2 separate regions of the Homo sapiens genome follow, and region 2 is linked to region 1. Evidence: fine-mapped expression QTL. A gene starts in region 1. The other region holds a variant in brackets. All regions are shown on one strand. Distances are between the middles of the regions. Region 1 holds the start of PDP1 (pyruvate dehydrogenase phosphatase catalytic subunit 1). Region 2 has its middle 28 kb from the start of PDP1.

The links. PIP is the estimated chance that this variant, and not a neighbour inherited with it, causes the effect.
Region 2: its variant is the best candidate, but not a certain one, in a credible set for the expression of PDP1 in lung (TOPMed, PIP 0.79).

Annotation. Positions count from the first base shown.
Region 1 is chr8:93,914,407-93,918,798 of GRCh38, reverse strand. It overlaps PDP1 (pyruvate dehydrogenase phosphatase catalytic subunit 1), which reads right to left and starts at 1,876. Exons shown (of 2, transcript NM_018444.4): 1 at 1,720-1,876. It overlaps MIR378D2HG (MIR378D2 host gene), which reads left to right and starts at 2,155. Exons shown (of 1, transcript NR_170280.1): 1 at 2,155-3,065. MIR378D2 (microRNA 378d-2) reads left to right here and starts at 2,680; the gene lies at 2,680-2,777. RefSeq lists silencers at 936-1,665, 1,796-2,135.
Region 2 is chr8:93,942,556-93,946,947 of GRCh38, reverse strand. It overlaps the pseudogene PSMA2P2. Among named protein-coding and RNA genes, the nearest start is that of PDP1, 28 kb to the right of the region's middle. The variant T/G (reference allele first, on the strand shown) is at 2,423.

The sequences.
Region 1 (4,392 bases):
TTCAGATTATCCACTGATTCAACAACAAGAAAACACTCTACATCATAACTTTTGCTGACAAGCTTGTTAAATTAGTGTAGAAGGCTCTTGATCAGGCAATAAGAACAGCATCCAGGTACAACTGTTGGTAAAACAGAGCAGTGTCAAATTTGCAAGTTATTCTTGATCACAATTTTCACGGAAAATTTCCTATTCCATGATCTAGACTCAGCCACGTTGTATGTAGCATCTTCATCCCAGGCAGATTGGGCTGATTTTGCCAATGACTAATAAAGAAAGATGCACTGCAACCAGAAACAGGAAAGAGAGCCGTCCATTCTTACTGATGTGCTTAGCAGAGCCTGTGCCAAGACATTTTTTCCACTCCATCAATAGACCCACGGACCAAATTAATTAGCAAATGCTATTAAGGCACCGACTCCAGAGCCCTTTAGCTTTGCAAAGCTTCTGATGTAAATGAAAAAGAAAAGCTATGCTAATCATTTAATGTGTCGGAACCCCAGTTTATGTAATCCGATTGCATTAAACACTCTACATAAAGACCATCCGCGATTTTTCAACATTTTTCTGGAAATGCCTAGCCATTTCACAGCTCCTGCTATCTTTTTACATAAATGAAGAAAGATACGAAGCACCACACGCCAGTATTTTTTTGATTAGTTTCCTTTGTCGCTACCTGAAAAACTGCACTCACAAAGACATCAAAGCTATCTCAATCCAAGACGCGTTTGTCCCTTTTTCCAATCTATCTCATCCCTTAATACCACGCTGATTCATCTAAAACCATCCATACACAAAAATCTGTCACCATCCTTCCTGGGTACCCAACGCAGGTAGTTAAGTGAATACCTACCAATTCGTCTGGGCCCGGGACACACACACATTCTCCTGTCATCACAACACGGAGCCGACAACATCCACAACCCGCGCGGGCAGCAGCAGCGACAGCAGCACCGGCCCATTGAAAGCAAGGCAGAGATGCTCATTAGAGGAGGCGGCGGCGGGGAGGCGGGAGCGGAGGAGGGGCGAGGTCTCGCTCCAGCCCGGTGAATGGGCTGGGAGGTGGGGGGGAAGAGGATGGAGGAGGGATAAAGGGGTGGAGAGAACAAGGAAGCCAACCAAACCAACCCACCCCGCCGGGGAGGCAAAGCCACAGCCCAAGGCAGCGGGGCCCAGGCGCGAGCAGGGGTGCGCCCCGAGGGCCAGCCCCTCCATCCAGCCGGGGCGCGAAGCCCATGGACTGCAGCCCCGCCCGCTGCCCGCCCCGCCCTGCCCGGCCCGGCCCCGCCCCAGGGGTGCCCGTTTCAGTCCAGACGAACAGGGGCCGGCCGGTGTCAGGCTGCCAGCGGGGCCAGCCCTGACCCGGGGTGCGTCAGGGAGACCCTCAGGCAGTGCCGCAGCCCTACAGCCTCCCTGGAGCTCACTCTGCCGCCGGCCCCGCGGCGCCCTTCGTGCTGACAGCTGGAGCGCAGGGGCCGGAAGACGCTAGGGCTGCACGGCGCCCCCGCCCCCGCCCCCAGCCCCCCGACGGCCCCCAGCGCCGCCACGCCCGCCCCACAGCCCGGACGCCCGGCGCGCACCTGGCGCTCCAGGGCTCGTCCAGCCCTCCGCACGCCCGCGGCCGCCGATCCGCGAGCACGCCCGGCGCCCCCTCACAACTTTGGACGGGTGGAGGATCCCGGACGGGGCGGCTCGTGGCAGGGAGTAGGGAATACGAACCGGGCACGGCAGGAGACCAAACGATTCTTCCCGACGAGGAGGGGGCGACAACGACGCCACCGCTCGGCGCTCTTTCCACGCAGCCCCGTGCAGCTCCCGGAGCGCGAGCCCTCACCCCCGGCCTGCCCACTCTGCTCCCCTACCGTGCGGGGCCGCCACCCTGCCCCGCCCGCACGTTCGGGCCGGAGTGCTTCCCGCCTGCCGATTGGCTGCGCAGTGACGAGTGGGAGGGGAGGCGGAGAGGGCTGCGGCCGGGGGTGGGGCGGGGGCGGAAGAGGAGCGCGCTCCCCGCCAGCTTTGTGACGTCACGGGGGTCAGACAATCCCTTCCATTCGGCGCGAGCCGCCCATTGGTTCCCCGGGCCCGCCTCACGTGACCCCCCCCCCCCCGCCCCCAGCGAGTGGAAGGTGTGGCTGCGCGGCGCTAGGGAGCGGTGGTCTGTGGAGCTCGGCGGTGTTGGCTGAGCAGGCTGCGGGGTCGGGAGAGGGGAGGCGCCTGGGCCGGCTCCAATGTCTTCGCGTGCATGGGGCCCGAGGAACGGGCTGCTCCCCTGTCGTGCAGGCTTCCTAGAATCTCTGGCACCTCTGCGGGGATGCGGTGGTGTGGGTGGCCGGCCCAGCGGCCAAGCCTCCCCTGCGCCTCGCGGTTGGGTGCGGGCTTCCCAGGGTAGGCTGCGGGAGCGGCTCCCAGCCTCACGGGAACCTCAACTCCCTGCGGCTCACCCCAGCCTGCGGTACAAGGCGTAGCAAAGAACCTCGAGAGTAGCTGTTGCTTCGTTCGTTTGATACGTTGCAGATTTTAGGAGCATTAACGCCCATCATGTTTTCTATCGCCCCAGGGAGAGGAAGCAGGTGTAGACAGCAGCAAGAGGGAGTTGTGATGAGGGAATTATCTCTGTAGCGTAGATGTGTGCTCACGTTCTCTGAGGAGTTTTGAAATCAGTATTGTTTCCGTTGCCCTGAATGGTTACAAGGAGAGAACACTGGACTTGGAGTCAGAAAACTTTCATCCAAGTCATTCCCTGCTCTAAGTCCCATTTCTGTTCCATGAGATTGTTTCCACCTCAGATGAGATTAGACTTAAGGTGGCATTGGTATTGTCTGTGGTAAAACAAGATATCTTCGAGGGCTCTTCAGTGACTTACATCCATACATCCCTTTTATGGGATAGTGGCTTCTGAAAGCTTCCTTGGCAGTGGCAGATAGAGCATTGCACTTATCTTCCCTAGTGTTCACCAATAAGTTGACTTTGATTTATTACACATAACTTCTTACTAGCCAGTCAGGTTCACAAAATGATGTGGAGTGAATTTCTTTTTATGTAATAAAAAACGTTATATACCCAAACTGGTCCTTTATAACTCCTGGATCTTTCAAGTTGCTGTATTCTCTGTTCTCTAAATAAACTAGAGGAGACTGTTTTTGCCCATCCCCAGGTTACCCATGGAACTTTTGTGGCTAGTCTGTCTGGCCTTCATCCCAGTTTTTACAGGTCCATCTGCCTCCCTTCATCCTCTCCTTTTTGCTTCTCAAATGGGCTTCCCATAAATTGCAAATATTCTCCACTACTCTTCCTGTCATTTAATTTAAGTATCTGGTTTCTTCTTCATAGATGCATAGGATGGTGTAGCCTAGTGATTAAGAGTGCAGCTGGAGCCAAGCTGGCTGGGTTCCATTCCCAGCTCTGCAGCTTTCTGTGTGGTCATGGGCAACTCTGCATGCCTCATTCTCTCACATATAAGATAAAAATGTAAAAAGTAATAGCAGGGCTGTATTAAGAGAGTTGACATATATAGCTTGCTAAGAAAGTACATAGCATGTAGTGTTATATAAGTGTTAGCTATTCTTGATATTATCGACATGTCCAGGTCAGTGTTTTAGATTAAGAACTCCTAGCAAGTAGGAGACCCAGGCCCCCAAGTGCATTATATTCTATTGTTAGGTACTAATAAGTTATTAATAGAATGGAGAATCTTTGAACCTTAGAATATCAGTTTAAATTCATTTATATAGAGGATCTCTGCCTCTTAACCCTTACTTTGTGGACATAGAGACCCACTTAACTGAAGCTGTGAGTGGAATTTTAAGAGTTTCTGCTTTATGACCCAGAAATGAAGTACATACTAGACTTCTCTGTTGTCTTATCAACTTTTTCCTGGCCAGGCTTGGTGGGCTCCTGCCTGTAATCCCAGCACTTTGGGAGGCCGGGGCGGAAGAATTGCTTGAGCCCAGAGACCAGCCTGAGCAACATAGACCTCATCTCTACAAAGAATCTAAAAAGCAATTAGCTGGGTGTGGTGGCGCCTGCCTATAGTCTCTGCTACTCAGGAGGCTTGCCTGATCCCAGGAAGCTGAGGCTGCTGTAAGCAGTGATGCATCACTGCACTCCAGCCTAGGCGAGTAAGCAAGTTCCCGTCTCAAAAAAAACAAAAAGCTTTTTTTTTTAATGGTTGTGAAATAGAGTAGTAAGAATCCAACATCCAGGCCAGGTGCGGTGGCTCACACCTGTAATCCCAGCACTTTGGGAGGCCAAGACAGGTGGATTGCTTGAGGACAGGAGTTTGAGACCAGCCTGGCCAACATGGTGAAACCCTATCTCTACTAAAAATACAAAAAATTAGCCGGGTGTGGTGGTAGGCATCTGTAATCCCAGCTACTTGGGAGGCTGAGGCAG
Region 2 (4,392 bases), 28 kb before region 1:
TGGAATAGTATGTAGCCATAAAAAAGAATGAGTTCATGTCCTTTGCAGGGACATGGATGAAGCTGCAAACCATCATTCTCATCAAACTAACACAGAAACTGAAAACCAAACACCGCATGCTGTCACTCATAAGTGGAAGTTAAACAATGAGAACACATGGACACAGGGAGGGGAACATCACACACCAGGGCCTGTCAGGAGGTTGGGGGCTAGGGGAGGGATAGCATTAGGAGAAATACCTATTGTAGATGACAGATTGATGGGTGCAGCAAACCACCATGGTACATGTATACCTATGTAACAAACCTGAACATTCTGCACATGTATCCCAGAACTTAAAGTATAATAATAATAATAAAAAGTGCTGTAGTTGATATGCAGACATTAATATCATCAAATTCAATACATAAAAAGTATCAAACAATAATACAGGATCTTGTAACCTCTCTGCAAGAAGATATTCTAATGTAACATAGCACTGCTTGAAAAGAAAAAAAAAGCTTCATGGGATAGATGAGTCTTTACATGTGTCAAGAAGAGAGTACAAGGAAACTAATTAATGTTGCTCCTGTCATATCAGCAGCATTGAGAGAAAGACATAATTCAAAAAAAATCATTGGCCAGGCTCAGTGGCTCATACCTGTAATCCCAGTGTTTTGGGAGGCTGAGGCAGAAAGATCACTTGAGAACAGGAGTTCAAGACCAGCCTGGGCAACACAGGGAGACCCTGTCTGTACAAAAATTTTTTTTAAGTTAGCTAGTCATGGTGGTGTGTGCCTGTAGTCCCAGCTACTCGGGAGGCTGAGGCAAGAGGATCACTTGAACCCAGGAGTAGAGGCTGCAGTGAGTTATGATCGTGCCACTGTACTCCAGCCTGGGTGACCAAGAGAGACTCTGTCGATATCTAATAAATACAAGTCATTTACCATATATATGATTTATAAATATCAATTCTGTGGATGTCAAATTAGAAATATTTTATCCAATCTAATGATGTCCATTGAAGCCCAAAATTTTAATATTGATGAAGTCCAATTTATCATTTACTTTGTCACTTGTACTTCTGGCATCAATCTAAGAGGGCTTAGCATAATGCAAGGTCACAAAGATTTACTCCTATATTTTCTCCTAAGAATTTTATAGTTTTATCTTTCACATTTAGCTCCATGATTCATACTGAGTCCATTTCTGTGTATGAAGTAAGAAAGGATCCAACTTCATTGTATTGCATGAGGCTTTACAGTTGTACTAGCACGATTTGTTGAAAAGACTGCCTTTCCCCCAACTGAATTGTCTTGGCACCCTTGCTAGAAATCAATTGACTATAAATATGAAAGTTTATTTCTGGACTCTCATTTAAATTCTATTGATCTGTATGTCTATCCATATGCCAGTATCACACAGTCTTGATTACTATAGCTTTGTATTAAGTTTTGAAATAGGGATGTGAGTCCTCCAAATGTGTTATTCTCTCACCAGGTTGTTTTTCAAGATTAATGTTTTACATCAAATTTGGGAACTTTTAAGCCACAAGTTTTTTAAATGTGTTTTTTCTGTTACTTTTTCTCTCTCTCCTCTTATTCTGGTACTCCAGTCATGCATATTTTGGTGCATTTAATGATGTCCAACATTTCTCTAATAATCTGTTCATATTCATTATTTTCTTTTTTTTTCCTTCTCCACTCTTCAGGCTGCCTTATCTCTATTGATCTATCTTCAAGTTTGCTGATTCTTTGTTCTGCCAAATCTACTCTTGAGGCCCTCTAGTAAATTTTTCACCTTGGTGTTTTACATTTCAACTCTAGAATTTTGATTTGGTTCATTATTTACATATAAACATACATACATATATGTATATGTACATATATACACATTTATGTAAATACATAAACTGATATTACATATATACATCTTTGCATATGCTGCACTATGTGTAATATAAATTTATGTATTTAAATAAATATATATGTGTATGTGTGTGTATGTATGTATATGTATATATATATATATACACATATGCATGTAAAGAACCAAATGAAAATTCTTGAGTTAAAATGTGTAACAACCAAATTATTGGTTGACATATATATCTTTATTGCTAGTCTCTATTTGATGAGATTGTCATCATATTATTCTTTACTTCTTTAAGCATAGTTTCCTTTAGTTCTTTGAACATATTTATTATAACTAGTTTGAAGTCTTTGTCAAGTCTGACATATGGGCCTTCTGACAGGCAGTTTTGGTTGTCTGCTTTTTTTCCCCTCTGTGTGTGAGTCACAGTTTCCTGATTCTTTGCATATCTTGCCTTTTTTTGTTGAAAACTAGACAATTGAATAATATATTTTAAGAATGCTATATACTGATTCTTCCCTACAAACCTATAGAGCTACTTTTTGTTGTTTTCTTATTTTTTAGTGACATG[T/G]CAGGGCTATTTCAGGAAAGTCTATTTTCTCCACAGTGAAGCCTCTGAAGTTGATCTTCAGAGGACATGATCTTGGACATTTGCACAGTCACCCAGAAGTGACAGTGATTTTAGCAGGGCTTTCTTTGCGTCTTTCCCTGATCTCTCTGTTAAGCTGTCTGCCTCTGTTGGTATCACATCCAGCTGTTAGGCTCCACTAATTGCATGTTGATTGCTCTATTGTTTTTGATAATGTCCTGGATGTCCTGCAGCATAAATTACCGTTGGATCCAATTAAATCTGGGCCTATTTGCAGGAGTGGTTTTTGAGGCTAGTCTTTGAGGTTTGTTCCAACCCCAGGAAGGATCTTCTTAGCTTTCTCCCCTACCCCTCCCCTTGTCTCTTTGGTAAATCAGCTGACCTGTGTTAGCTCATAGCTCCCCTGGGGCTACCAGCCTCCTCTTAATTGCTTATCACCTTAACTTCCATTGTTTTCCAGAGAGCCCTCAGGCATCAACTTCCTCACATTTTGCTTAAGATAAAGTCAATTTATTTAAAGATAGCTCAGAGCTCATGCTCTCTCTCTCTCTTATTTATTTATTTAGAGTCAAGGTCTCACTTTGTCACCTAGGATGGGGTGCAGTGGTGTGATTGCAGCTCACTTCAGCCTTGACCTCCTGGGCTCAAGCAATCCTCCCACCTCAGCTCCTCAAGTAGCTGAGACTACAGGCATGCACCACACACCCAGCTATTTTTTTTGTATTTTTTGTAGAGGCAGGGTTTTGCCATGTTGCCCAGGCTGGGCTTGAACTCCTAAGGTCAAGCAATCTGCCTGCTTCAGCCTCCCAAAGTGCTAGGAGTGCTGGCATAAGCCATCGTGCCCAGCCAGAGCTCTCTCTTCTTATGGCCTGCTCTCCCTGGGCAAAACCTCTGTACCATTGCTCCGGAGCTGGGGGTGGGGACAGTGGCACACTTCTTTCAAAATGACACCCTTGTTTTATGAGCAGCATGCTGGACAGGAGCAGTAGCATCTAGTTTTCTTGGCTTGGTTCTTCCAGTGAGCAACATCTGCCCTAAAAGCAAGCCGGGGCAAAAGCAACTGGGGCCTAGTGTTTTCAACCTGTCATGTCTAGGGTAGCAGTAGAGAGCTGAGTGAAGGACAGGAGTCCCCACCTCTTTGGCTGTACTCACTGAGAATTTAGCCTCTGCCACATGGAGAAGGGGATGAGAGAAATGCTGGCAGCCTGAACTCTGGGAGAGACTGGGAGCTGGGTCTCCATATTCTTGGCCACCCAACCTGCAGTGGATCTTCCATCACATGGAGTTTGAGGGTAGCGGGAGGCAGGGAGCAGATCAAGTGTCGCAGACTCTCACTGTCCAAAATTTAGTAGATTTACTTGAATAAATATTTATTCATTTGCTGTATGTTCTCTGGACAATCTCCAGTGACTCTAAGTGTTGGGGTTTTTCTCCTAATAATTTTCACCAATTACTGATGTTTCACTGGGAAGCAGGTCCGAGAAACTTCTCACACTGCCATTCTGGAATTGGATCTCCAGTACTTGTGTTTGGTATTTTGCACAGAGGCACGGAGGGAAAACACAGTTAAAGTCAGGTTGGGAGCCAGAGAAGAAAAGTGAGGGGATGTGCTTTGGCTCTCCAGGTAAAGATGGCAGAGCACAGGTACAGCTTCTTGCTGACTACACTCAGCCCATCTGGTACACTTGTCCACACTGAATATGCTTTAGCTGCTGTAGTGGGAGGAGCCCCTTCAGTGGGAATTACAGCTGCAAATGGTGTGGTATTAGCACTGAGAAGACACAGAAATCCATTCTGTATGATGAGCAAAGTGCACACAAAGTAGAACCCATTACCAAGCGTAGCGGTTTGGTGCACGGTGGTGCGGATCCAGATCAGAGTGCTTGTGCATGGAATTCAAAAACAGCTCAGCAATACTGTAATATCTCCGTACCAATGATAACGACAGGAAG